Homo sapiens: one gene and its partners. The protein of the gene in region 3 purifies or fractionates together with the protein of the main gene of each other region. This does not show direct contact. Each region holds a gene or a part of one and is shown on either strand. Other genes may lie near its edges.

Region 1 (3,500 bases), on a different chromosome or scaffold from region 3:
TTCCCTTCCCTGGCCCTCAGTTTAGTTTCCACATCCGTCAAATGAGGTCTTAAGCCTGGCGGTCTCTAAAGTCTCTTTTGTGCCTGAAATTCTGTGACTTTTTTGTTTGGCAGGTGGTAATACTTCATCACATGTTATCCAAAGCAACTGTGAAGGCTCGGCCTTCAGTGCTGTGGTGTTATAAGAAAGAGCTGGGGTTTAGCAGGTAAGCTGGGCTCTTCATGTGTTTTATCCAACTTACAATTCCTGCTCATTAGTTAAATGCCAGGAAATGATTCCTTCACATATTTTTTAAGGGTCTTTAGTGGAGGTGCTATCTCTGAGGACAAATGGAGCTGATATCCTTTCTTCATTCCTGAAAATAAGTTTCAAATCATTTTCATGCTTTTTAAGTCACCAATCCAATGCCTTGCCTTCTGCATATGGTTTTCCTTCCTGCTTTTCTAGGCTGATTAAGCCCATCTCATTGCAAGTTCCTTCAAACTGTCTTTCCTACCTCAAATTTATTCCACTTTTCACTCTCTCTCTTTTTCTCCCCTTCTTTCATGGAGGGGGTATATGCCTCATCCCATGTCCAAGGAAAACCCCTTTATGTACCCTGTGTCTCCTCCCTCACCTCTTTCAGGACCTGTATTGTCTTTCCTCTGCTGGCCACCCAATACCCTTTGGAAACTTTCTCCTTCCTGTAAACATGCTCAGATTTTTCTATTATCAAAAGCTGATTACTTACATACCCAGATTTCTCTCTCAGGTTAGCATTTCCCCCGATTTTTATTGCCATATACCTTAAAACAGAAATCTTTTGCACTTAGTAGCCACTTTTGCAGTCTGGTTTCTGCTTCTATAATTGTGATCAAATTGTGCAGTTAGACATCCCCAGCAGCTTGATGCCTAATGCGTCAACTTTTCTCTCTCTTTCTCCTCCTTTTCAGAGCTCTGCCTCTTCTTCTACCAGTTCACTGCTGTATTTGACAGTTGGCTATTTGAAGCTGTGGTAGTCAAGACTTTTAGTCATAGATAACATACTTTCAACACAAATACAATTTGGCACAAAGGGATTTCATTGAGGTATATGGGATATTTCCTGGAATCCAAGGGGATAAGATTTCAGCTCTGCTCACGGGTGATCTAGAGTCACAGTACTAATGCTCCCAGCTCAGTTTGTCATCTCAGTGTATCTGCTCTATGCAGACCAACTTTCTCACTGCAGACCAGCTTTCTGTTTTCTGTTGTCCCCCTAGCAGAAACAACACTTGCGTTTTCCTTGTTTCAGGCCCAGCCATGTGGAAATCAGACTTTTTCCCAAAATTCTGGTGGAAAAATGCCCACACCTGGCCAGAGGAGGGTGGGGTTGGTCATAGCATAATACAAAGTTGGAAGTTCTACCTACAACTTTGTGTTTGGAGAAGTTTGGATGGGGTGGGTAGTGCTGTTCCTTGGCAGATAACCACCATGGCATCACCTAAGAAATAGTCTCCTTTTTTGGCTTCAGTGTCTTTACTCAGACCACCTTCCGGAGCTCTTCTCTTTCTCTGGATCTCGTCTCCTTACTCTAAACCTAGCTGGCTTGTGCGATTCTGTCCTTGAGCCTCTTCTAATTTCCAAATGTGCTCATCTCCGATCTGACTCTGAAAGCCTGTCTCCAGCTCTGGTTGCTTTATGCTGTGACTAACCTCCCTCCTTTTCTTTGCTCATGCTGTCTCCTCTGCTTGGAATGCCACTTCCACCTCCCCGGTATCACCTATTGAAATCCTGTTTCTCAGGGCCTGCCTCCTCCGTGAAACTTTTCCTGAGCCCCCCAGTCATACCTGGTGGTTCCTCTACCTTCCTCTGCACTTGTCCTTCTCCTATAATGTTTGCCAATGGATGCTTTTGCTTTAGGGTAAAGTCACTTACATACTGTGACTTACGTTCATTTTTTTTTCTTTCCCTTTTTTTTTTTTTTTTTTTTTTTTTACTTTCAGGTGATAAGCTTATTTAGTTAGGAGCCCTCTTCTATTTATCTTTGTATTTTCATACTTTTAACTGATTTAGCATGTTTATCATAGGTACTCAGTATACATTGAGTTGGATGTGTTGTTAACAGGCTCTAAAATTATTTTAATTTAAATTAGTACCAGAGGCTAAACTTGCCCCTGTCCTGTGGTCTTAAAGTGAAGGGATTCTGCCTAAAGGAAACCAGACAATCATAAGAGCCTTACTGATGAAATGTGAAAAGTGCAGAAAACCCAAAGATGAAAATAAAAAACATCTCACTGTCTAGGCATTGTCAGCATCTAGGTGTATCTTACAGGGATGTAGTTTTGAACCATAATTGGTATTCTGTTGTATATACTCTCATATTTAGAGAGGTAGGCATTTTTAATACAGATTGAGAATAAGGCCTGTTGTCTATCCCAGAATTTTAAGTTTTTAGGGCTTCTGGTTTTCACTATTTTTCATTTGGCAAATATGAGATGGGTGTGGAATTAGGCAGTTCAAAGTCTTCTGGGCAGATTTGCCTTTTGAATTTAAACCACCTGGCTTCACTTCTAAAAATCTACTTTTGTACCTCTTATAGCTCTTCTGCCCCACCCCTGTCTTAGTCTGGCAGAGCATTGTGTTCAAGCTAATGCCTGTTTGTAAGTCACGGGCTTAAGGCCTGAGCCAGAAGGGACAGTGGAGACAAACTCACCCACTGCCTTGGTTCATAGATGAGGAAGTGGAGGCCCACAGGAGGAAAGGCCTTTGTTCTAGCTATTAAGTTAGAGAACTATGGTAAAATTTTGATCAGCTGTAATCCTCCATTCTAGAACATTCTAATTCTCTCTTTTGGTAAAGGAAAGGTAAGTAGCAACTGGATATGCAGGGTTTTTAAGACCAAAAAAATTCAGGAATTCCTTAGAGATGTCCAGATTCCATTCTGATCCCTGTGTCCTGTATCATTATTGTCTTATGTAAGACCTGCCCTTGAAGACATAATCCCACATTCTCGGGGAGGAAGTCCTCTAGGAAGGATGAATAAAGTAACGTGCCATCACCTTGTCTTTCCTAGGATCTCTGGGGAACAGCACAGTGTAGTTGAAGCATTGGCTTATGACTGAGATAATGAGGCCACTCAGGTTTGGTTTCAAGCTCTGGCTTTGGCCAAATGTGAGGGTTAGCTACCCTATTACCCATCTTTTAAAGCAAAGTATTTGCTCAAGGTCACAGGGCAAAATAGCAGAGTTCACACATAGACTTATCACTTACTCCAAGCCCTTAAGCACTCTAATGCCTCTCATGCCTCTCCACTGCCCTCCACCTGAAGTGGGCCTCACACTTTCAAGTTCCCTACTAGCTCTGAAAGTCTAAGTGGGTGATCACTGAGCCTTTCCCCTGGTTCCAGCTCTTTAGCTGCTCTGGTTAACTGGCTCTCATGGGATTGGGGGTGTGTGATTGCAGTCACCGGAAGAAAAGAATGCGACAGCTGCAGAAGAAAATAAAGAATGGAACACTGAACATAAAGCAGGACGACCCCT
Region 2 (3,500 bases), on a different chromosome or scaffold from region 3:
GCCTCCCAAAGTGCTGGGATTACAGGCGTGAGCCACCACGCCCGGCCTTTTTTTAATGGAGTCTCGCTCTGTTGCCCAGACTGGAGTACAGTGGGGCGATCTCGGCTCACTGCAACCTCTGCCTCCCTGAATCAAGTGATTCTCCTGCCTCAGCTTCTTGAGTAACTGGGATTACAGGTGTGTGCCACCATGCCCGGCTAATTTTTTTGTATTTTTAGTACAGTTGGGGTTTCCCATGTTGGCCAGGCTGGTTTCAAACTCCTGACTTCAAGCGATCCACCCACCTTGACCTCCCAAAGTGCTAGGGTTCAGGCATGAGCCACTGCACCTGGCCTGATTTTTATTTTTTTATATTTTTATTTTGAGACAGGGTCTCGCTCTGTCACCCAGGCTGGAGTGCAGTGGCATGATCAAGGCTCACTGCAGCCTCAGCCTCCCGGGCCGAAGCAATCCTCCCACCTTAGCCTCCTGAGTAGCTGGGATGACAGGCACTCACCACCATGCCCAGTTGTTTTTTTTTTGTTTGTTTGTTTGTTTGTTTTTTGAGACGGAGTTTTGCTCTGTCGCCCAGGCTGGAGTGCAGTGGCGCAATCTCGGCTCACTGCAAGCTCTGCCTCCTGGGTTCACGCCATTCTCCTACCTCAGCCTCCCGAGTAGCTGGGACTACAGGTTGTGCCACTACGCCTGGCTAATTTTTTGTATTTTTAGTAGAGACGGGGTTTCACCGCGTTAGCTAGGATGGTCTCAATCTCCTGACCTGATCTGCCTGCCTCGGCCTCCCAAAGTGCTGGAATTACAGACGTGAGCCACCGCGCCTGGCTTTTTTTTTTTTTTTTTGTAGAGATGGGGATCTCCCTATGTTGCCAAGACTGGTCTCGAAGTCCTCCTGCCTCAGCACCCCTCTCCAAGTAGCTGGAACTACAGGCATGCACCACCATGCCCAGCCAATTTTTAATTTTTTTGTAGAGATGAGGTCTCGTTAAGTTGCCCGGGCTGCCACCTTGTCCTCCCACAGTGCTAGGATCACTGGTGTAAGCCACTGGGCCTGATTTTTGTTTTTTTTTTTTTTCTTTTTTTTTTTTTTTTTTTTTTGAGACTCTATCGCCCGGGCTGGAGTGCCATGGTGCGATCTTGGCTCACTGCAACCTCCACCTCCCAGTTTCAAGTGATTCTCCTGCCTCAGTCTCCCAAGTAGCTGGGATTGCAGGCGCCCACCATGCCCAGCTAATTTGTTTGTATTTTTACTAGAGATGGGGTTTTGCCATGTTGGCCAGGCTGGTCTCGAACTCCTGACCTCAGGTGATCCGCCTGCCTTGGCCTCCCAAAGTGCTGGGGTTACAGGCGTGATCCACCATGTCTGGCTTGATTTTTTTTTTTTTTTTTTGGTAAGGTCTCTGGCTGGTGCTGTGTGAAGCACAGGCTGTGCAATGTAGAGGTGGAGACAGAGAGGCCAGCGGGGAACACATAGTGACCCATAGGTATGTATGGGGCAGGTATGTATGAGGCAGGTATGTACGGGGCAGGTATGGACGGGGCAGTATGTACGGGGCAGGTATGTACGGGGCAGGTATGTAGGGGGCAGGTATGTAGGGGGCAGGTATGGACGGGGCAGGTATGGACGGGGCAGGTATGGACGGGGCAGGTATGGACGGGGTAGGTATGGACGGGGTAGGTATGTAGGGGGCAGGTATGTAGGGGGCAGGTATGTAGGGGGCAGGTATGTAGGGGGCAGGTATGTAAGGGGCAGGTATGTAAGGGGCAGGTATGTAAGGGGCAGGTATGGACGGGGCAGGTATGGACAGGGCAGGTATGTAGGGGGCAGGTATGTAGGGAGCAGGTATGGACGGGGCAGGTATAGACAGAGCAGGTATGTAGGGGGCAGGTATGGACGGGGCAGGTATGTAGGGGGCAGGTATGGACGGGGCAGGTATGTAGGGGGCAGGTATGGACAGGGCAGGTATGTATGGGGTGGGTATGTATGGGGTGGGTATGTATGGGGCGGGTATGTATGGGGCAGGTATTTACAGAGCACCTCCTGCATACCAGGCTCTTGGTGGCAGCTGTGGCCCCGCCCAGGGCCTCTGCCTGCCTGGAGTCTGTCCAGGGAGATGAACACACACCAGTGACTGGCCCAGGCATGGTGTACAAGTGTGCGAGCAGCTGGGGGCAGTGTGGGGGCTGTGGGAAGCTCAGGGTCGGGGGCACTGCTCTAGGGCCTCGGGAAGCCTTCCCTGAGGACAAAGATGCCAAAGAGTGTTCCAGAATAAGCTGGAGGGTGCCGCCTGCCTGTCAGCCTACAGCAAGCCAGACCCATGTACAAACACGGATTCCTGTGCACACTTACGCTGGAAACCGAAGAGAGGTGACCAGCCCTCCACACAGCACACTTGGCTGGGGACCCGGCTCTTCAGGGCGTGCCAGGGTCTTAGTTGACTAGCCGGCGTGGCTGATGCCCCTGGCACCCCAGAAGGCACCGATGCCTTTCAGCAGCCATGCCTGGGGCTGCACGTGGCCAGCGAGGCTGGTCAGCCGCTCCTCTGGGTCTGTGCCGAGGCTCGGGTATTTTTAGGCTGACATTTGCCACAGCTCCTGGAAGCTGGGGTGAGGGAGCGTGGTCCTAGGGACTGACCGACAGCGGAGGGCCGGGGGCTGACCTGAGTGTGGACAATGACCCGAATGACCTTGCAGTACTTCTTCATGGCGGCGAAGTCCTTCTGTAGCTGCTTTTTCCCGTCTGTGTCCCGCCACCTCTTGCAGGCCTTGGTGAAGGCTTTCTTCTTGCTCTTGTGCCTGAGCCATGCACAGGAGGGTGCTCAGAAGCCCCCAACCGGGGCAGCTCCCCAGGCCTATCCTGCCCCCACCTCACCCCCAGCCCACCAAGCAGGGGTCCTACCTCTGGGACCGCCCCCCACCCGGAGGCCTCTGAGCTGGTTCCAGCCACCATCTTTGAACATAGACTGTCTCTCCCCCTCTAGGCCCCGGTTTCCTCCTCTGTAAAGTAGGTACCCTCCCTGTTTCCCGGGGCCTGAGAGTGAGTGGCAGAGGTGCAGAAGCTCAGAGAAGGCGGCTGGCCAGCCCTGCAGTCCAGGCACCTAGAGACCACCCCACCTGCCACATGGCTCAGACTGCTGGTCCCACTTCTCAAGGGTGCAGTGGGTGCCATGGCCAGGCACCTCGGGCTTGGGAGCCATCCTTTCTTTTTTGTTTTTGGAGATAGGGTCTCACTTTCTCTCCCAGGCTGGAGTGCAGTGGCACAAACACAGCTCACTGCAGCCTGGAGCTCCCAGACTCAAGCAATCCTCCCACCTCACCCCCCATGTAGCTGAGACCACAGGCATGCGCCACCGTGCCCGGCTAATTTTTTGTATTTTTTTGTAGAGACGGGTTTCGTCATGTTGCCCAGGCTGGTCTCGAAGCCCTGAGCTCAAACGGTCTGCCTGCCTTAGCCTCCCAAAGTGCTGGAATTATAGGAATGAACCATTGTGCCCAGCCAGAAGCCA
Region 3 (3,500 bases):
TTCGGGTTTGGAGAGACTCACGCCCAGCAGGGCCCGGGCGTCTTGGGTTCGGATCCAGACTGCTTTCTGAAGACACCTCAGTGCACCCAGGTCTGGTGCACCATTTCCTTTTACCAAAATAGCACAGAAAACTGCTCCCGTTGTGAGCACCCTCACTCCCACAGAAAGATGCATTTCTGCTCAGCCCCAGATGGGACGAGGGGCACCCTGTGGCCTCTGACCCTTTGGGATTGGCAGTCGCCTGCCCCACACGGAAGCAGAGGTGGACGCAACGGCCCTGCAGCAGCACCTGCCCCAGCCGGGCACAGGCTCCACTTCCGGCCAGGTGCGCTCACCTGGAGTAGTCGCTCTGCACCTCCAGGGTCCGGGTATCCAGCAGCAGGCCGCACCAGGGGAATAGGCCGTGGGCCGGCATCTGAACAAAAGCCGTGCCACCCAGGGCCTCGTCTTCTACAGGGAAGTTCACCACTGTCTTCCGCAAGTTCACCACGCAGCCATACTCAGGGACACCTCGGACCAGGGTCCTAAGGCAGAGGGGCAATGTCAGCCCCAGGATGCGGGGCCGTCACCCAGGAGGTAACCTGACACCCTTGTTAAATGCTTTGGAAAACCCCAGAGAAGTGGTGATTTGGAGCAGGGTGCTGGGCCTGGCAGGAGCTCTGAGGAGCCTGGACCCAGCCCTGCTCCAGACTTCGGGGTGCTTTCCCTGTCTCCCGGGCAGGACAGGTAGGTGAGCATGCAAGAACCTGGCCTGGACCCGGGACAGCCAGGACTCAGATGGGAGGTGCAGCCCCAGTGGCCTCTGTGATGGTCCATCTCATGTGTCCCCATGGCAACACCACAATCCCGTTATAGACTCATCTGTGGTCCGGGGCAGACTAAAATCTGGACAAGAAATTGCCACCATCCCACCTTCTTTTAAGACGTTTCTCAACGACTTTGCCTGTTTTCTCCTAGATGCCCTGAAGGCATCTGCTGTGCTTTAGACAAAGGGGAGGGTTCTGAGTTCCTGCTCAGGCGCGGGACCTGGCTGGGCTGTGAGCTGGGCAACACCAGTCGTCAGCTTCACGTCAAGGAGGTTCCCTCGCCGAGTCATGAGCCTCGCTCACCCAGCTCAGGGAGCCCCCCTGTGCCCGGTAGCCTCTGCTCTGGCCTGGGCATCCCCTTCCCTTCCTGCGGCCTCTGCTGTGGCCCCGGGCGTCCCCCTGCCCTTCCTGTGGCCTGGCCCTGGGACCTCGGCCAGCTGCGCAGCTCCCCTGGTGCATTCCCAGCTCCCTGTGGCCACCCCTTCCTGTTACATGGCTGCCGACTCATCAGAGACAGAGTTCTGCCCCCGGTGGGACCCCAACATACACTCTGAGCCACCTCCCTGGCCAGCACCCTCAGGAACTTGCCACACAGAAGCAGCGTTCCCCGTCTGCTCTGTCCCCTCAGCAGCCTCAGGACTCCTGAGCCCTCAGTTGCTTGGGACCTGGGCTCCCCCCGAGTGAATCTTAGTGGATTTAAATGTGCACAGCCTGCTGTGCTCCGGGCTGCGGCACAAGGAACGCCAGGCATACCCCCAGCCCAGGGCGGCCCTGGAGGGTGGACCTGGAGGGTGGACTTGGAGGGCGGGTCCAAATGGGTTTTCACAAACACAGCCCAGCAAAGCACCTGAAACCACCCCTGGCGGCCACATTTTCTGAGGGTTCCCTTTACAGCTTTCAAGGTTTCTCGTCCCTCGTCAAATCGCACTTTAAAACAAGCCCACCGGCTCTGTGGGGCGCCCTTGAGGGGGACCACATTGGACAATCCCCTGTGCTGAGGCCAGGTCCCCTGTGCCTGATTTTAGTTTGATTCACAAAAATCAACTCTGAAACCCACTCCTAGCCATCTCCGTGGTTCAAGACAGCAGCACTCAGCAAATCCAAATTCTCCCACCGATCCCAAACAACCCCACGCAGGAACGTGACCGCAGCGAACGCTGTGGGCCAGCTCACTCAGCAGCTCCTGCTCTCCGCAGGCTCAGGTGCACCCTGGGGAGGAGGCTGCCGCCTCGGCCCTGCAGGCCCTGTGCACAGCTCCTGGGGGTCTCACTGGGGCCCCAGGAGCCGCCACTCTTGACTTTCCAAAGAGCAGCAGGAGCCAGGTCACCGCCTGCACTCACCACGTGTGTAACCTGGGTGCGTCTCTGCAGGACCAGGGCCTGCACGGTACCCACTCCCTCCCGAAGGTGCCCCTGCGCCCCCAGGCCTGGGTGCACGGCCAAGCGCCTCTGCTCTTGCGGATCCAGCACCGGCAGAGAGAGAGGACTTGGCAGAGACAACGCTGCGGTGCCAGGGGCAGGACACGGGGGGCTCAACTGCAAAGCCCACAGGCTGTGGAGGTCCCCACAGACACACGGCACGGGCCTCACCTGAGGAAGGTTTTCGCGTGGGTGAGGTGAGGTGTCACCAACAAGAAATCATCCACCAAACGCAGGAGCAGCCTAAAATAAGGGAAAATACACAGCAAGGTTAACTTTACACTTTTTACGTAGTATCTGTCTACGAGGGACTGAATGTCAAACAATTTACACAGCCATAAATAAAGTAACATTCTCCAAAGCGGTTAAATGAAAAACTTAAATTTCTTTCCAACAGACGAGCTCTCTACAGTTAACTGCTACAGCAATTCCTCATTCATTATAAGTACTCAGTGTTTACCATCAGCTTGTGCAATTCTGTGCCAGCTGAAGACGAACGAAGGCCATCAGGCGCGGCCCCACTTCTCAGACTCTTAGGGAAAAATAACTGAAGACGGTAAGAAAGCTGGGGCTGGGAACCTCGCCCCCTCTGAGCCACGTGGTGCCCTTTACCAGCATGGCAGCTGTGGTCCTCAGCATGATCCGAGACCCAGATCCTATCCACAGGAAGCTGGGCATGGTGCACTGTGTGACCCTCAGGCCCAAGCCCAGCGCCCCATGACCATGGGCCAGAGGTATCCTGTCCCAGAGGGCTGACCAGTGTGCCGCCAGCTCGAGGACACTTTCCTCCAAATCCCAGAGCAAGTTGTGTGTACAAGAAATTTTTGTTTCTGTTACATAAACTTATTTCAATCTAGAACTTGAACCTTAATGAAGAAGAACCTTGATCCACTGTACATGCTATAATTGGAGCTAGAGTTTCAAAAGATGCACAGGAAAAACCCGGAGTCTTCGAGAGAAATGGCTGTGTGGCCTGCAGGCTTCCTGACGCATCCTTCACTAACTGTCTGCTTGTTCAGTGATACTATTTTCATAAAAAAATAACTGCTGTCCACATCCTCTCCAGCACCAGAACACTTTTACACTGTTGGTGGGAGTGTAAACTAGTTCAACCATTGTGGAAGACAGTGTGGTGATTCCTCAAGGATCTAGAACTAGAAATACCATTTGACCCAGCCATCCCATTACTGGGTATATACCCAAAGGATTATAAATCATGCTGCTATAAAGACACATGCACACGTATGTTTATTGCGGCACTATTCACAGTAGCAAA
Region 4 (3,074 bases), on a different chromosome or scaffold from region 3:
TCCTATTAGCTTTCTCCCTCACATGGCTGGAGAATTGTAAGAATCCTACCACTCAGAACAAAGTAAGCGAGCTTAAAGAAACCCATGCCAAACTTTGTTTTTGTCCCGTAATTACCATAAAATCCCAATTATTAAGGCAGGAGTACTACACTTTACAGTTTAAAGCAGTGTTTCCTTCCAGCCCTGTTTATTCTATTCTCCTTTGGGTTTGAACTTCAAGGTCTACACTAGATACTTTCCAAGGCTGCTTCCTCTGTTGGTCAGATCAGACGCTGCTTTGTTAGCTGTGGTTGCTACAGAAGCTCTGTTTCAGTTCCAGAGCTCTGTGCTGATGGGGACAATGGAATATGATGCAATGATCACCAGTGATTCTCAGTCTCTCCTGAGACACCAGAAGGTAAGTCACAGTCTGAAGAGTCTCACTCAACCTTCTCAACACAATCTAGCTGAGAGACATGGGGAGAGGTGGAAGCACAATATTCAGTAGAGGAAAAACAAGATCTTGTTCTCTGACAGGTTTATTAGCTTTCATGTTAATGGATGTTTTTAAACCCTGCAACCCTCTGTCAACTTCTTTCCACATCAAGAGGCCATGAGATACAGTAATGGCCTCTTAAGAGTCATGCCACATAAAGATGATGACTTTGATGTCCTGGCCTGCCTCCTGTAACAATGTGAGGCTGTTTTGGGTACATGCTGTAATAACAACAGGACTATCACAGGAACAATGAAGCAGAGAAGCAGAAGGTGCCTACAAAGTTTTACCTAAATGTCTTGTTTGTCAGGATGGAGCTGATGCGCCCATACTGGCAGAACAATTAGCACAGAGTAGTTCTGAAAAGGAGGAAGAATTCACAAAGCATCAGTTATGGGTGCAGGGAAGTCGCCATCTGCCAATGGGCACCAGAGTGTCACTGTACTGGAAGGGGAAAAGGAGTGGGCTGGATGAGATCCAGGGGCCTCTCTGCCCATGTTCAAAGTCAGTAGCTGCTCTGCCTGCCGGCATCACAGTGTCAACACATTTTGTGTGTGTCTCACTCAGTCTCACACCCAAGAAAGTAAAAACAATTGATGTAGGAATAAGGGGAATGGATAAAGAATGGTACATGCTTATTCTAAAGCAGGAGAGCCTACAGATTGTTGTCAAAGCTCATGTCTATCTCTGTCCTCGAGGCCTCCACACCATCTCCCTCTCCCTCCTCCAGAATCCAAGGGATGAGCCCGTTTCCCTTTATGAGACGAGGTGGAGCAGTACCTCTAGTTTTTGGCTGCTCATGGCCTCAGAGTTGCTGTTTGGAAAGGAAAAAGAGCAGCAGAGGCAGCAAAGAAAAGTACTAGGGCAGCACCTTTAGGTTAGAAATAGATTCCACAGTTAAAAGCACAAGTATAATATGCATTAAACAGAGAAGGGCCTCAATAGAATGGTCACAATATGCAAGTGTGTCCCACTCATTTACAATATTAGGATTCCAGGAGCTGCCAGAAATAAGTCATCTCATTAACATACCTACCTGCAGTTCTGATGTCTGGCTATTAGTAAACAAGGCCTACGTTTGTTTCTCTAAAATTTAGAATCTTAAACTAAATCCTTTATTTCAAAAACAAACATAAAATAATTTCCCAGGCAGAGAAAAGGTTTGAGATGGAAGCGTTCTTGTTAGCAGTCCCTTCCTGCATAAATGGGGTTGGAGAGAGAGGAGAGAGGGAATGGCCAAGGGTATGGAAAGCTTTCACAATGCATGCCGAGTGTGAAGTGACACCCCCAGCAGATGGGGTTTATCATCTTTACTTAGTCACACAACATCAAGGACTGGTTAGTTCCAGGGAAGGGCTCCATTTCACTACCTGGGTCAGTTCTCTTCCCCCGCATGCTCCACAATGCAGTAGAACCAAACAACACATTCATTTACAATAGAATGTTTAAATAACACCTGTCCAATAACTGCCCTTACTTCTTTGTGCTGTCGGGAAAAGAAAAAACAGAAAGCAATAAAACCCAAACCCTTTGGCAAGCCAGCCGGTGCCTATTCTCCTGGGGCATTTTTAGTGGAACTTCGGCTGGGCCTTGCCCTCCTCCCAATATCAGTGAGGAAAGTGGCAGCGGGACAGGTTTGGTCATCTGCAGTGGAGTAGAAAGAGGAACCAAACACGATTCGGGCCACAGGTGGATTCTGGCACATTTTTAGATTGGATTGGTTAAAAATGTCATGTTGTACACAGGATGCAGGCAAAGGAGTTTTTTTTTGAGGGACATAATGCCTATAGGCAGCATGAACGGTCCGATCTACCCTTGGGGAGGAGCTCCCTGTGTAGGGACGGAGAAACTAGGGGGCCTCGAGGAAGGTGTTGGTTCGGAAGATGGAGGAGACAATCTTTCCGGTGGCATTGATGGTGCCTTCGCTGTCTGAGCTGGACTCGGAGTCGCTGCTCCCAGAGTAGGCACCCAGGCCTGGGAGGATGCCGATACATACTGCAGCAGAGGGGCAGTGGATGGAGGGGCCACTCAGGGAGGTGTTTCCGAGAGACTTGCAGGATGAGGGCTCTGCAATAAAAGGGGAAAGACTGTCACTTCATCACCCTTTTCCAAAGTTGGGGACTGACTTACCATGTGCCAGGCACTGTACCAAGGGATTTTCCCACAGAGGAGCCTTAGAACAATGCTATGCAGCCAATACTATCATCACCCTCGTTTTAGAGATGGGGAAACTGAAGGAGGAAGGGAGGCTCCAGGAGGTGAAAGGACTTCTGAAAGTAAAGGGGCAGAGCTGAGACTTGAATCAAGGTCTTTTTAACCCCAGAGCCTGACTACACTCTCTTGTTCCCCATCAAATCCGAGTTGGAGAACAAGCTACTCTGGAGTGTAGCCTAGAGTGCTTTGATTTCCCTGTGCTCACACAGCCGTGAGAATCTGAAAACAGATTAAGAGAGACACTGTGAGCAATATTAACAATTCCATTAAGTTCTCAGCGTATTACACCATTTCTTATTTACTGACCAATAAGCCAGCTAGCACAGATACAATTTTAAGGCCAAACATCAGCTACAAAATAACATTCTTTTCTTTTTAAACATTT
Region 5 (3,500 bases), on a different chromosome or scaffold from region 3:
GAGTAGAGCCTTTAGTTAGATTTTACTTTATTTTTGCGTATAAACATAGGCACCTATAACACAGATGACCCAAAGTTAGTAATGTTTCATTATAAGAACCACTTGATAACAAACTATAAATTATGTAGCACAGTTAAATTTACTATATGCATAATTAATACATAGCATCTGAATAAAACTCGGTGTGCCGAGCACGGTGGCTCATGCCTATCACTTTGGGAGGCTAAGGCAGGAGGCTTGCTTGAGCCCAGGAGTTGGAGACCAGCCTGGACAACATAGGGAAACCTTGTCTCTACAAAAAATAAAAAAAGTTAGACCAGCATTGTGGCACACACCTGTCGTCCCAGCTACTCAGGAGGCTAAGGCAGACGGATTGCTTGAGCCCAGGAGGTCGAGGCTGCAGTGAGCTAAGGTCACGCTACTGCACTCCAGCCTAGGAGATAGAGTGAGTCTCTGAAAATCAGTCAATTTCTTAGTGTAAAATGCTAAAAGAATTGTGATAATTGTCTTTTCTTTTCTTTCGAGATGGAGTTTTGCTCTTGTTGCCCAGGCTGGAGTGCAATGGCACCATCTAGGCTCACTGCAACCTCCGCCTCCCAGGTTCAAGTGATTCTCCTGCCTCTGCCTCCCAAGTAGCTGGGATTACAAGCATGCGCCACCATGCCTGGCTAATTTTGTATTTTTAGTAGAGACGGGGTTTCTCCATGGTGGTCAGGCTGGTCTCGAACTCCCAACCTCAGGTGATCCACCCGCCTCACCCTCCCAAAGTGCTGGGATTACAGGCCTGAGCCACCACGTCCAGCAGGAACTGTGAGAATTTTCTCAGGCAGAAAGATGCTTGCTATGCTTTGCTTTTTTTTTATTATTTTTTGAAACAGAGTCTCACTCTGTTGCCCAGGCTGGAATGCAGTGGCCTGATCTTGGCTCACTGCACCCTCCACCTCCCATGTTTAAACAACTGTTATGCCTCAGCCTCTCCTGAGTAGCTGGTATTACAGGTGTGCGCCACCATGCCCGGATAATTTTTTATTTTTAGTAGAGACCAGGTTTCGCCAGGCTGGTCTTACACTCCTGGCCTTAAGTGATCTGGCCTCCTTGGACTTCCAAAGTGTTGGGATGACAGGTGTGAGCCACCGCACCAGGCCAGAAAGAAGGTTCTTGAAGGAAATAGATGTATTTTCCCCACGTATTTGGAGATGGTGGTGGTTTAATGTTTACAGATGAAAAGGAGAGAATGCATAGGGGCAAAATTTGGAAGGGGAAATGGTGAATGGATGGATTTTCTTAGAAAAAGAATGTACATATTGTGTATTGTATAAATATTGTCTCTACCTTTTAATAGTGACAGCATTTTATTTGATGTGTTGGTAAAATGTTCCACATGTCTGCTTATTGACCTTGTGTCAGCCTTGCTTTGAAATCAGTCAGTTTTGCCTGCAGGGTTTCTGGCAGAGTTACCATGGGAACTATAGACTGTCAACTATCTGAAACTCCTAATTAGAGTGGAATTTGAAGTAATAAGTGGTATATAGCCAGGGGTATGGGCCTACAGGCCAAATCTGGCCAAAGGCCGTTTTCATAAATCAAGTTTGATCGGAACAGTTACACATTCCTTTAAATAGTGCCTACACCTGCTTTTGCACTGCAGTTTCAGAGTTGAATACTTGTAGTTGTGATGTTGATTGTATGACCTACAAAGCCTAAAATATTTGTGTATTTGATGCTTTAAACTTTGGTGACCCCCAGTCTATTGCCTTCCTACTCAAAAGTATGGTCTCTGGACCAGCAGTCTTGGCATCACACATGGTATAACTAAATATGCAGAATCATAGGCTTCTCTCTGCACTCACAAATACAGGCACATTGATGCTCAAAGAGAATCCAAGGAATGTATTAGGAATATATGGCCGTACGTGGTGGCTCACACCTGTAACCCCAGCACTTTGGGAGGCTGAGGTGGGTGGATCATCTGAGGTCAGGAGTTCGAGATCAGCCTGGCCAAACGGCATCTCCACTAAAGATACAAAACTTAGCCAGCCTTGGTGGCTGGCGCCTGTAATCCCAGCTACTTGGGAGGCTGAGGCAGGAGAATCCCATGAACCCAGGAGGCAGAGTTTGCAGTGAGCTGAGATCACGCCACTGCACTCCAGCCTGGATGACAGAGCAAGACTCCATCTCAAAAAAAAAAAAAAAAAGAAAAGAAAAAGGTATATATGAAGTTAGGCAGTGAGTGCTTACTTTTTTTTTTTTTTTTTTTTTGAGACGGAGTCTCACTCTGTCGCCCAGGCTGGAGTACAGTGGCATGATCTCGGCTCACCACAACCTCTGTCTCCTGGGTTCAAGTGATTCTCCTACCTCAGCCTCCCGAGTAGTTGGGATTACAGGTGCGCCACCATGCCCAGCTAATTTTTGCGTTTTTGGTAGTGACGGGTTTTCACCACATTGGCCAGGCTGGTCTCGAACTCCCAACCTCTCTGGTGATCCACCCACCTCAGCTTCCCAAACTGTTGGGATTACAGGCTTGAGCCACCACGACTGGCCGACTGCTTACTTTTGAATTTTTTCTTAGATATGAACATAGCAAACCATTGAAACAGGAAGAAGCAACTGCTACAGAGCTAACTACAAAGTCATCCCTTGCTGCTTCCTCAAGTCTCTCATCGATAGTTGGACCACTTGTTGAAATGAATACAGGCGAAGCTGAGTCAAGAAATTCAAACTTTGCAACTGTAGGAGCAGGTTCAGAGGACTGGGTGAATGCTATTGAGTTTGTTCCTGGGCAACCCTACTGTGGCCGTAGTAAGTATTCTGAAGAAGAAAATAAGAGTTAGAGGGCTGGATAGCAGTTCATCCATTTGCTTAGTTTTGACAACTTTCCCCTTTCTGCTTCTATTCCTTTTTTAGTTTAATCTTAGTACAGTACTTTAATTTGGATTACCTAAGATTTACAGATAGAGTGAAGGAAATTTTTAATCCCAGTGAAATGAATTCAGAATGTTTTGAAAAACTGAATCCTTTCGAGTACTTTTTGAAATTAAATTTCAGTTACCCAAGACATAGATAAAGAAGCAATTTTTTTTTTTTACAAGTCTAATCTTGGAAATAACAGCGGTAGAAAAAATTCCTTTCTTTCAAGTGAAGAAGTTAGTTCAGTAGACTGTTTTGGTATTTCATTGCAGTTTTATTTTCATTTTTTGCGGTTAGATTCTCAGTTCTCTTATAGTTCATGCCTTATCTATTTGGACCTTTACCACCCTCTTACACATTTTCAGCTGCGCCTTCCTGCACTGAAGCACCCCTGCAGGGCTCAGTGACCAAGGAAGAATCAGAGAAAGAGCAAACCGCCGTGGAGACAAAGAAGCAGCTGTGCCCCTATGCTGCAGTGGGAGAGTGCCGATACGGGGAGAACTGTGTGTATCTCCACGGAGATTCTTGTGACATGTGTGGGCTGCAGGTCCTGCATCCAATGGATGCTGCCCAGAGATCGCAGCATATCAAAG
Region 6 (3,500 bases), on a different chromosome or scaffold from region 3:
AATGTTTACAGTAGACATAAATCTTATACAATTCAAAAAGCTTTTGTTCAGATCATAGAGCATAAAATGGAAAAATGTATATGCAGGTGAAATCTAACTACTGTACATTTATCACCTATTAAAGTTGCTTATATGTACCACAGTGTAAAAAAACAATACCGAACAAATAAAAACCTCGAAAATTGCCTGATGAAAAATAAAATAACCAGTGGCTTTTAATGGCTTCTCCTGGTTATCAGTGCTACAAAAGACAAAAATCTTCTCATCTGAACAGGTGATAAAACCAGGCACAATCAAACCGTTACCAAATTAGACCCACCCATAGAAATATACTATCCACCCACATATTTTCCATCAAAAGCTTTTTGTTTGTTTCAATCTGAATCTTTGAGGCCCATTTGGTCACAATATGTTACAAATATTTGTGTATGTGTGTGTTTTTTACACCATGATATCATATGTTTGTCTGGCACTATCCTAAAGCTAGTTTATAGACGATGATGATATAGAAACAACCCAGTGCCTATATGACAAATGAACTCACTGGGTAGAAATGAGACAGGGGAGGAAGGAATTCAGTTCTACCAAGGAAAAAGGTCCATACTGATCACTCATCATCCGTCCCACTTCCTTCTGACTGTTCCTAAAAGTAAAAATAAGAAGATAAAATGAAGTAACATCACATGCAAGAAAAAGAAGATATAACAACAAACCATCAAGAGGCCAGTAGGAAAAAATGACATTTTGGAAACAACTCGCCAAATCTCTTTCCGTGGGAGGACAGAAACACATTAAAGAGGCATCGACAGTCTCTAAGCTGAGAAGTTTTTCTTACTGAAAAACCCCAAAGCAAAGCCCACCCTCTAAGCTATTGTTTGTGCCCTTTCACTTTGGCTTGAAAGGTTTATGGCTAATATTTTCTCTTTTTCAGCCCCAGGTTTTAGAAAATTCATGGGAGAAAAAAAAATACCCTGCATTTGACATCTCCTAAAGAAAAATGTATTTGAAAATGCTTGCATCAAGGGTTAAGGCTGGGGTGAGATCATAATTCTGAAATTTTACCAAAATGGTAATGTGTTGAAGGAAAATCAAACTAGGAAAAGGGAAATTTATCTTTCCAGAAAGAAAATAATGTGGGTGCCAGGAAACCATCCTCTGGAAAGTGAATGGATGAAATGAAGGGTATTTCAAAAGGCAAGGTATTAGGAGCTTCTGCCCACTCTTCTACCTTGCTGCCCAGTCAGACATAGCACACTAGACTGAGTTATGCTACTCGGGTCCGAATTCCACCTCTGCGACGTGATCTGTAGCAAAACACCCATAACCTAACCATTTCCATAACATGTTATTTGAGAGTGACATCTATCTCACGATGCCGACATCAGTATTTAATATGCTACCACACAGGGAGGTACCTATTACAAGGCCTGGCTCAATAGATGCTCACTGAATTTTTCAAATATGAAAAATAACACCCCTAGGTACTTAAAAAGTCCTTTGAGTTTTTACATGGTCCCTTAAGTAGCAACTCGAGCCAATAACTCTGACGTCATAACAGTTTTTCTCATTCTTCCATCTAATCTACTGTTATGTACCAGGCACCATGCTGGCTGTGATGCATGTAAAATATTAACTGGCTACGGGGAAAACCATATTTATAAGAAAGCATGTGGGAAGATTAAAAAGGGGGAAAGGGAAGCTTGATTTGGTAGTTTTTCATTTTTGAAGACTATTAAAAAGGCAATAAACAAAGCCCCCAATCCTTTGTTCTAAATCATACAGCTCCGTTCACATCCCTCAATAATGAAATCTCACTAAATCCTGACATTTCCAGTCCTGGGTAATAAAGCGAAAAGGCTGAAGGGGCATGGAAATGCAAGAGGCCAGCAAGCAGGGGAGAGGGCGTCTCCGCCTTCAGTCCCAGTCGGCTACACTTACACGTTCATCCTGCTCCTCATCGCTGTCAAAATCGCTCACTACAGGTTTGGCTTTTCCTCGATTTGGCCTTTTCTTGCCTTTCCCTTTGTCCCGGCCTTTGTCATCTTTTTTATTGAGCTTAATTTTCACCTTGACTGATTTTGCTAAAACCAAAGCAAATGAAATAGACACCAGTGAGTAATCACAAGGAGATCTTTGTATAGGTGGTAAGACTATCACCAACCTACAGACAACACAAACATCCCAGAGTGCCCAGAACATTCCCGGTTTATGCCTGTTCTGTGTGGTTCTGTCTAGTCAGCGACCCCTTTCACTTGCCAACCTGTCTTCTTTTGGAAGATAAATGATGTAGTCACGCTAAACAGGCAACAAGAGGGACCGAGGTCTCATGGAGGACAGTGGGGCTGGATCCTTCACCTGTCTCCCAATGGCTGACCAAGGATAATGAGGGGAAGTGTTTTCTACTTGTGGAGGTGTTGGGCAATCATTTAATAGAACTTTTACATTAAAAATATAAATAAATGTAAAGAGTTTAAAGGCCAATAATTTTACCATGTAGATAACTCCATTGACTTAAAAAGAAAATTCAAATAGTTCAATCATATTTTTAACATAAAGGTACAAAATGGAAAGTAAAAAGAAAACACTTTTGAATGCTTCCTTTCCCCCATTCCTAGTCTCTTTCCCTATAACTAATTATTTCCAGGAAAAAAAATGTTTATGTCCATACCTGCAAGTACATCCATTTCTCTCTCTCTGTGTGTATGTGTGTGTGTGTGATTCTACATATTCTATAAAAGTCTCTCTATAGAATATAAAGAATTCAAGTAAGTATATATACACACGTACATACTTGAATTCTTTATGTAGTTATCCCAAAGGGATCTTTATACATGTCCATATTCTCCACTTGGCTGTTTACTCACATATGTGGGATATTTATAGGTAAAGCCTCATACATACCTGCCTAATTCTTTTAAATACCTGAAAATTTTCCATCGTATGGTATACTATAATTTATTTAATCAGTCTCATATGATGAGGGCTGAAGTTTGCTGCTTTTTTTGCTAGTATAAACAAAGCTGCTGTGAACCTATTTCAATGTATCTTGGTAGAATTTGAGGGAGGTATGGTGGACATGTCCATATGGTAAATTTCTAACAGTGCTCTGTCAGATTAGCCTTCAGAAAGACTGCACCCATTTCCACCTTCACAGGACTATTCTGGGGATACCAATGGAAACACTTGGAAGAGTTCAAGGTACAATATCACAAATATAGGTACATATCCCAAAGAACAAAGACAATCTGCTCCATGGTAGCTATTTGGGATAGGTATCCACAGAATACCATTTTTGGTATTTGATGATGAAGGCACTGAAAATGTGGGTCTCTCATTCAAGCTAGCTTTGCTAGACTACCATGTTTGGTGGGTCTCAAGGCATCTAGAAATAGATGTTGTCATAGAGGGAATCCTAGCTCCAGAAGGAGATGAGAGTGTTTGTTTCAGACTTCTTTTGTGAAGTAGAGGGACCCACAAAATATTTCCAAAACTAAAATCTC
Region 7 (3,500 bases), on a different chromosome or scaffold from region 3:
GAGACCCACAGCGTCTAGCCTCAAATCCACTTCTTTCTTTTCTTTTTTTTTTTTTGAGACAGAGTCTCGCTCTGTCACCCAGGCTGGAGTGCAGTGATCTCGGCTCACTGCAACTTCCCTTCCTGGGCTCATGTGATTCTCCAGCCTCAGCCTCCCAAGTAGCTGGGATTACAGGCATGTGCCACCAAGCCCAGCTAATTTTTGTATTTTTTAGTAGAGACGGGGTTTCGCCACGTTGGCCAGGCTGGTCTCAAACTCCTGACCTCATGATCCACCTGCCTTGGCCTCCCAAAGTGCTGGGATTACAGGTGTAAGCCACAGCGCCCGGCCAAATCCATCTCTTTCTAAGGCCTGCCTCCCTTGTGTATCTTCCTTAATAATCCTAGCCCATCTATCACAATCACTTTTGTCTGAATTCTTACAAGCTCATCAGGTATTTATGGGCCTTCTGACACCACTTACATTGTAATCCAAATACCTTTTTAGCTCTTCTAATGCTATTACACTTCCCTATGTTTTTATGCCTTTTCTACCCAACTAGATTTATAAGCTCTCAAGGAACACTTATCAGAGTGCTTTGCAAGCTGAAGGTCCAACATTCTTAATTGGCCAGAATCTCTCTTCAGAGGAAAATAGGACACCCACCTTGGGGGCAATGCGGACTCGCTTGCTATGGCGGGCAAGCTCTGAGCTCATGAGGGAAGCCGCCAGGGGCAATGGCACCTTCACCGAGGGCTGCAACACCAGTGACTGGTTCACCGGGAACTGGATAGGTACCAGGTATGAGCTGACCCGTGGTAGCAGTGGCTTCATCTTCCGCCCTAGGAGGAAACACGAGAGATCAGGAGCAGGGGGACTGGAGTACACCCCTTCTCAGCCCCAGGAGCTTTGCTCTCCTTCTCTGGGCTCAGATCCCTTTGAGGTGGGAACAGAATCCCAGAGTCTGGTTCCCTAAAGATATGGCCCCAGAACAAGGACCAGGCCCAAGGCCCACTCTCCCATACTAACGTGCGCCCAGGGGGAGTTCGGTTTTGATGGTCATGTTCCGGCGGAGCTCTGGATTCGGTCGTTTCTGCTGCTGCTTGTGGCAGATGGGGAGAGAAAGAAACCTATGTTAACACAATAAGGTAAAGAGGGGATGGCAAAACCCCACCAGCTGCTCTGGTGGTGTGTGCTTGAGTTAATGACAGCCCAGAGAGAGGAGGCCAACCTGAGGGGATGGACGTAGGCGAGCAGTCTCCAAAACTGTGATGAGTGGGCAGGTGGGTGGCCTACAGACACATGATGGCAGAGTGGCACTACCGCTTCACCCACGTGTCCTCAACACCCCTGGGGGATGCCAGAGCAGGTAGCTATATGCGTGGCAAAGAAAAGCTAGGCACAAAAGTGAGCGAACGAACTGCCGCCCCTGAGGCTGGTGCCATGCGCTTGTGGCTGCTGCAGCATGCTCCCCTGCTGTGCCCTGCTCTGCTCAGTGTGCCCTTGTGATGCCCATGGAAGGGGAGGGAAGTGGGTGTGTGCCTGACCCTCAGGGTGTTCTGTGTCTAGGGCTGGCACCTAGACAAAACATGGCCATAGGGACCCTTCCCCACATCACATCTTGTCTCTGTCCACTAAAGCCATGCTGAGCAGTGAAAGGAAAACAAGGCCAAGCCCCGAGCCAGAGGGAAAGAACCTTACTGATTCCAAGTGCTCGGGCAATTGTGGAGACCCTGGGTCCAGTGGCTGGTGGCGGCCAGGCATTGTGGGAGAGAAATGAGATGAAGTTACCACCAACGTGGTCAATTTGACCGGATTGGGAAAAACACTTATTCCTGACTGATGACAAAAGACACCCCAGACAACTGCCCCTCCCAGGAGAATGGTTACAGCTACCAGCAGCCTTATGGGCACTCTGAAAAACCAAAATAACTTCTTTCTGAAAAGACGTTCTGGTAGCTCAGCTTCTGGTCTCCAGCCTAAGGCAGGCTTTTTTTTTTTTTTTTTTTTTTTTTTGAGACAGACTTTCACTCTTATTGCCCAGGCTGGAGTGCAATGGTGCGATTTCAGCTCTCCACAACCACCGCCTCCTGGGTTCAAGGGATTCTCCTGCCTCAGCCTCCCAAGTAGCTGGGATTACAGGCATGCGCCACCACACCCAGCTAATTTTTGTATTTTTAGTAGAGACGGAGTTTCTCCATGTTGGTCAGGCTGGTCTCCAACTCCCGACCTTAGGTGATCCACCTGCCTCAGCCTCCCAAAGTGCTGGGATTACAGACGTGAGCCACCACACCCAGCAGGAAGGGCTTTTTTTAGAGCAAGCATTCCCAGAATTTCTTGTAAGAATCACCTGAGATGCTTGCTAAAAATACAAATTCCTGGGCCCATCCCAGAAGCACTAAATCAAGAGCCCCAAGAGAGGGGTCTGGGAAGCTGTGTTTTAACAATGTCCCAGGCAATTCCCATTCACAGGGAAGTTAGGAAAACACTGCCCTGGGGAGCCCTTTCTGTTGGGTCAGAACAGCCTTCTCCTTGCTCTGGTCTGGCACAAAAATGTGTCATTTGGTATTTGTCAAGTGTACTTAATTCACTGGGTTTTGTGCAAGTCACTAATTGGGTGGCTGGCTTCTAACTCTCCCCTGATCAAATGAAAGCATCACTAGCAGAACTTGTTTCCTTTTGAGATGGCTATGACAACCTCCAACTTAGGCCCTATTTAGAGGAAAGCAGGGCATTCACCTTAAACACCTGGTCCAATGTCAAGTAGCGGTTGGCACTGGGGTGAATGGTCCAGAAGGAGACCTTGCCATTGGCAGACGTCTCCCGGACAAACATGTCGTGCAGGGAAAGGTTGTGGCGGATGGAGTTCTGGAAGAAGAGCAAGACAACTGGTTATCAGCTACTTTAGATTCAGAAACATCACCCTTCAAACACATGGGGAAACCAGCCTCAGGCCCCTCCCACTGTGCTCAGCACAGGCTTCGTCTGGTGTCTTTGCAGCCCTCTTGGCAACTCTCCTGACACTCCACACCGCAGAGCCGTCACCTTCAGCCATAAACCCATCTATTCTACGGGAATAAAGACTGATGCCAACCTTAGATTGTGATAAAGAAAAGACCTAGATAGCTGTCAGGGGCTAGAAAAGCAGAGTAAGGCTGTGAGGTAGTGATCAATAGCAAGAAAGGTGGCTCAGAGAAATTAAGAAACTAGGGAATTAGGCCCGGCGTGGTGGCTCACGCCTATAATCCCAGCACTGTGGGAGGCCAAGGTGAGTGGATCACTTGAGGCCAGGAGTTTGAGACCAGCCTAGCAAACATGGTGAAACCCTGTCTCTATCAAAAATATAAAAATTAGCCAGGCATGGTGGCGCATGCCTTTAGTCCCAGCTACTCGGGAGGCTGAGGCAGGGGAATCACTTGAACCTGGGAGGCAGAGGTTGAAGTTAGCCAAGATCATGTCACTGCACTCCAGCCTGGGTGACAGAGTGAGGCCCCGTCTCAAACAAACAAACAAGAAACTAG

The links.
Region 1: the proteins of TERT (region 3) and NAT10 purify together in Homo sapiens (affinity purification with western blotting, with the first as the bait; one study listed by BioGRID). This does not show direct contact.
Region 2: the proteins of TERT (region 3) and RPL3L purify together in Homo sapiens (affinity purification with mass spectrometry, with the first as the bait; one large-scale study listed by BioGRID). This does not show direct contact.
Region 4: the proteins of TERT (region 3) and PSME3IP1 purify together in Homo sapiens (affinity purification with mass spectrometry; one large-scale study listed by BioGRID and IntAct). This does not show direct contact.
Region 5: the proteins of TERT (region 3) and MKRN1 purify together in Homo sapiens (affinity purification with western blotting; 2 studies listed by BioGRID). This does not show direct contact.
Region 6: the proteins of TERT (region 3) and SMARCA2 purify together in Homo sapiens (co-immunoprecipitation; one study listed by IntAct). This does not show direct contact.
Region 7: the proteins of TERT (region 3) and FOXM1 purify together in Homo sapiens (affinity purification with western blotting; one study listed by BioGRID). This does not show direct contact.

The regions. Positions count from the first base shown.
Region 1 is NC_000011.10:34,108,629-34,112,128, forward strand, and holds part of NAT10 (RNA cytidine acetyltransferase), read left to right. Parts: intron 1-113; coding exon 114-205; intron 206-3,423; coding exon 3,424-3,500. UniProt on the Homo sapiens protein: RNA cytidine acetyltransferase that catalyzes the formation of N(4)-acetylcytidine (ac4C) modification on mRNAs, 18S rRNA and tRNAs.
Region 2 is NC_000016.10:1,948,190-1,951,689, forward strand, and holds part of RPL3L (ribosomal protein uL3-like), read right to left. Parts: intron 2,791-3,500; coding exon 2,655-2,790; intron 1-2,654. UniProt on the Homo sapiens protein: Heart- and skeletal muscle-specific component of the ribosome, which regulates muscle function. Component of the large ribosomal subunit in striated muscle cells: replaces the RPL3 paralog in the ribosome in these cells.
Region 3 is NC_000005.10:1,264,069-1,267,568, forward strand, and holds part of TERT (telomerase reverse transcriptase), read right to left. Parts: intron 2,468-3,500; coding exon 2,396-2,467; intron 525-2,395; coding exon 336-524; intron 1-335. UniProt on the Homo sapiens protein: Telomerase is a ribonucleoprotein enzyme essential for the replication of chromosome termini in most eukaryotes. Active in progenitor and cancer cells. Inactive, or very low activity, in normal somatic cells.
Region 4 is NC_000016.10:57,151,966-57,155,039, forward strand, and holds the end of PSME3IP1 (PSME3-interacting protein), read right to left. Parts: intron 2,543-3,074; coding exon 2,325-2,542; 3' UTR 501-2,324; downstream 1-500. UniProt on the Homo sapiens protein: Promotes the association of the proteasome activator complex subunit PSME3 with the 20S proteasome and regulates its activity.
Region 5 is NC_000007.14:140,459,006-140,462,505, reverse strand, and holds part of MKRN1 (E3 ubiquitin-protein ligase makorin-1), read left to right. Parts: intron 1-2,569; coding exon 2,570-2,799; intron 2,800-3,272; coding exon 3,273-3,499; intron 3,500-3,500. UniProt on the Homo sapiens protein: E3 ubiquitin ligase catalyzing the covalent attachment of ubiquitin moieties onto substrate proteins. These substrates include FILIP1, p53/TP53, CDKN1A and TERT.
Region 6 is NC_000009.12:2,189,847-2,193,346, reverse strand, and holds part of SMARCA2 (SWI/SNF-related matrix-associated actin-dependent regulator of chromatin subfamily A member 2), read right to left. Parts: intron 2,082-3,500; coding exon 1,939-2,081; intron 644-1,938; coding exon 608-643; 3' UTR 1-607. UniProt on the Homo sapiens protein: ATPase involved in transcriptional activation and repression of select genes by chromatin remodeling (alteration of DNA-nucleosome topology).
Region 7 is NC_000012.12:2,863,675-2,867,174, forward strand, and holds part of FOXM1 (forkhead box protein M1), read right to left. Parts: intron 2,848-3,500; coding exon 2,719-2,847; intron 1,726-2,718; coding exon 1,681-1,725; intron 1,272-1,680; coding exon of another isoform or gene 1,211-1,271; intron 1,082-1,210; coding exon of another isoform or gene 1,079-1,081; coding exon 1,009-1,078; intron 822-1,008; coding exon 646-821; intron 1-645. UniProt on the Homo sapiens protein: Transcription factor regulating the expression of cell cycle genes essential for DNA replication and mitosis. Plays a role in the control of cell proliferation. Also plays a role in DNA break repair, participating in the DNA damage checkpoint response.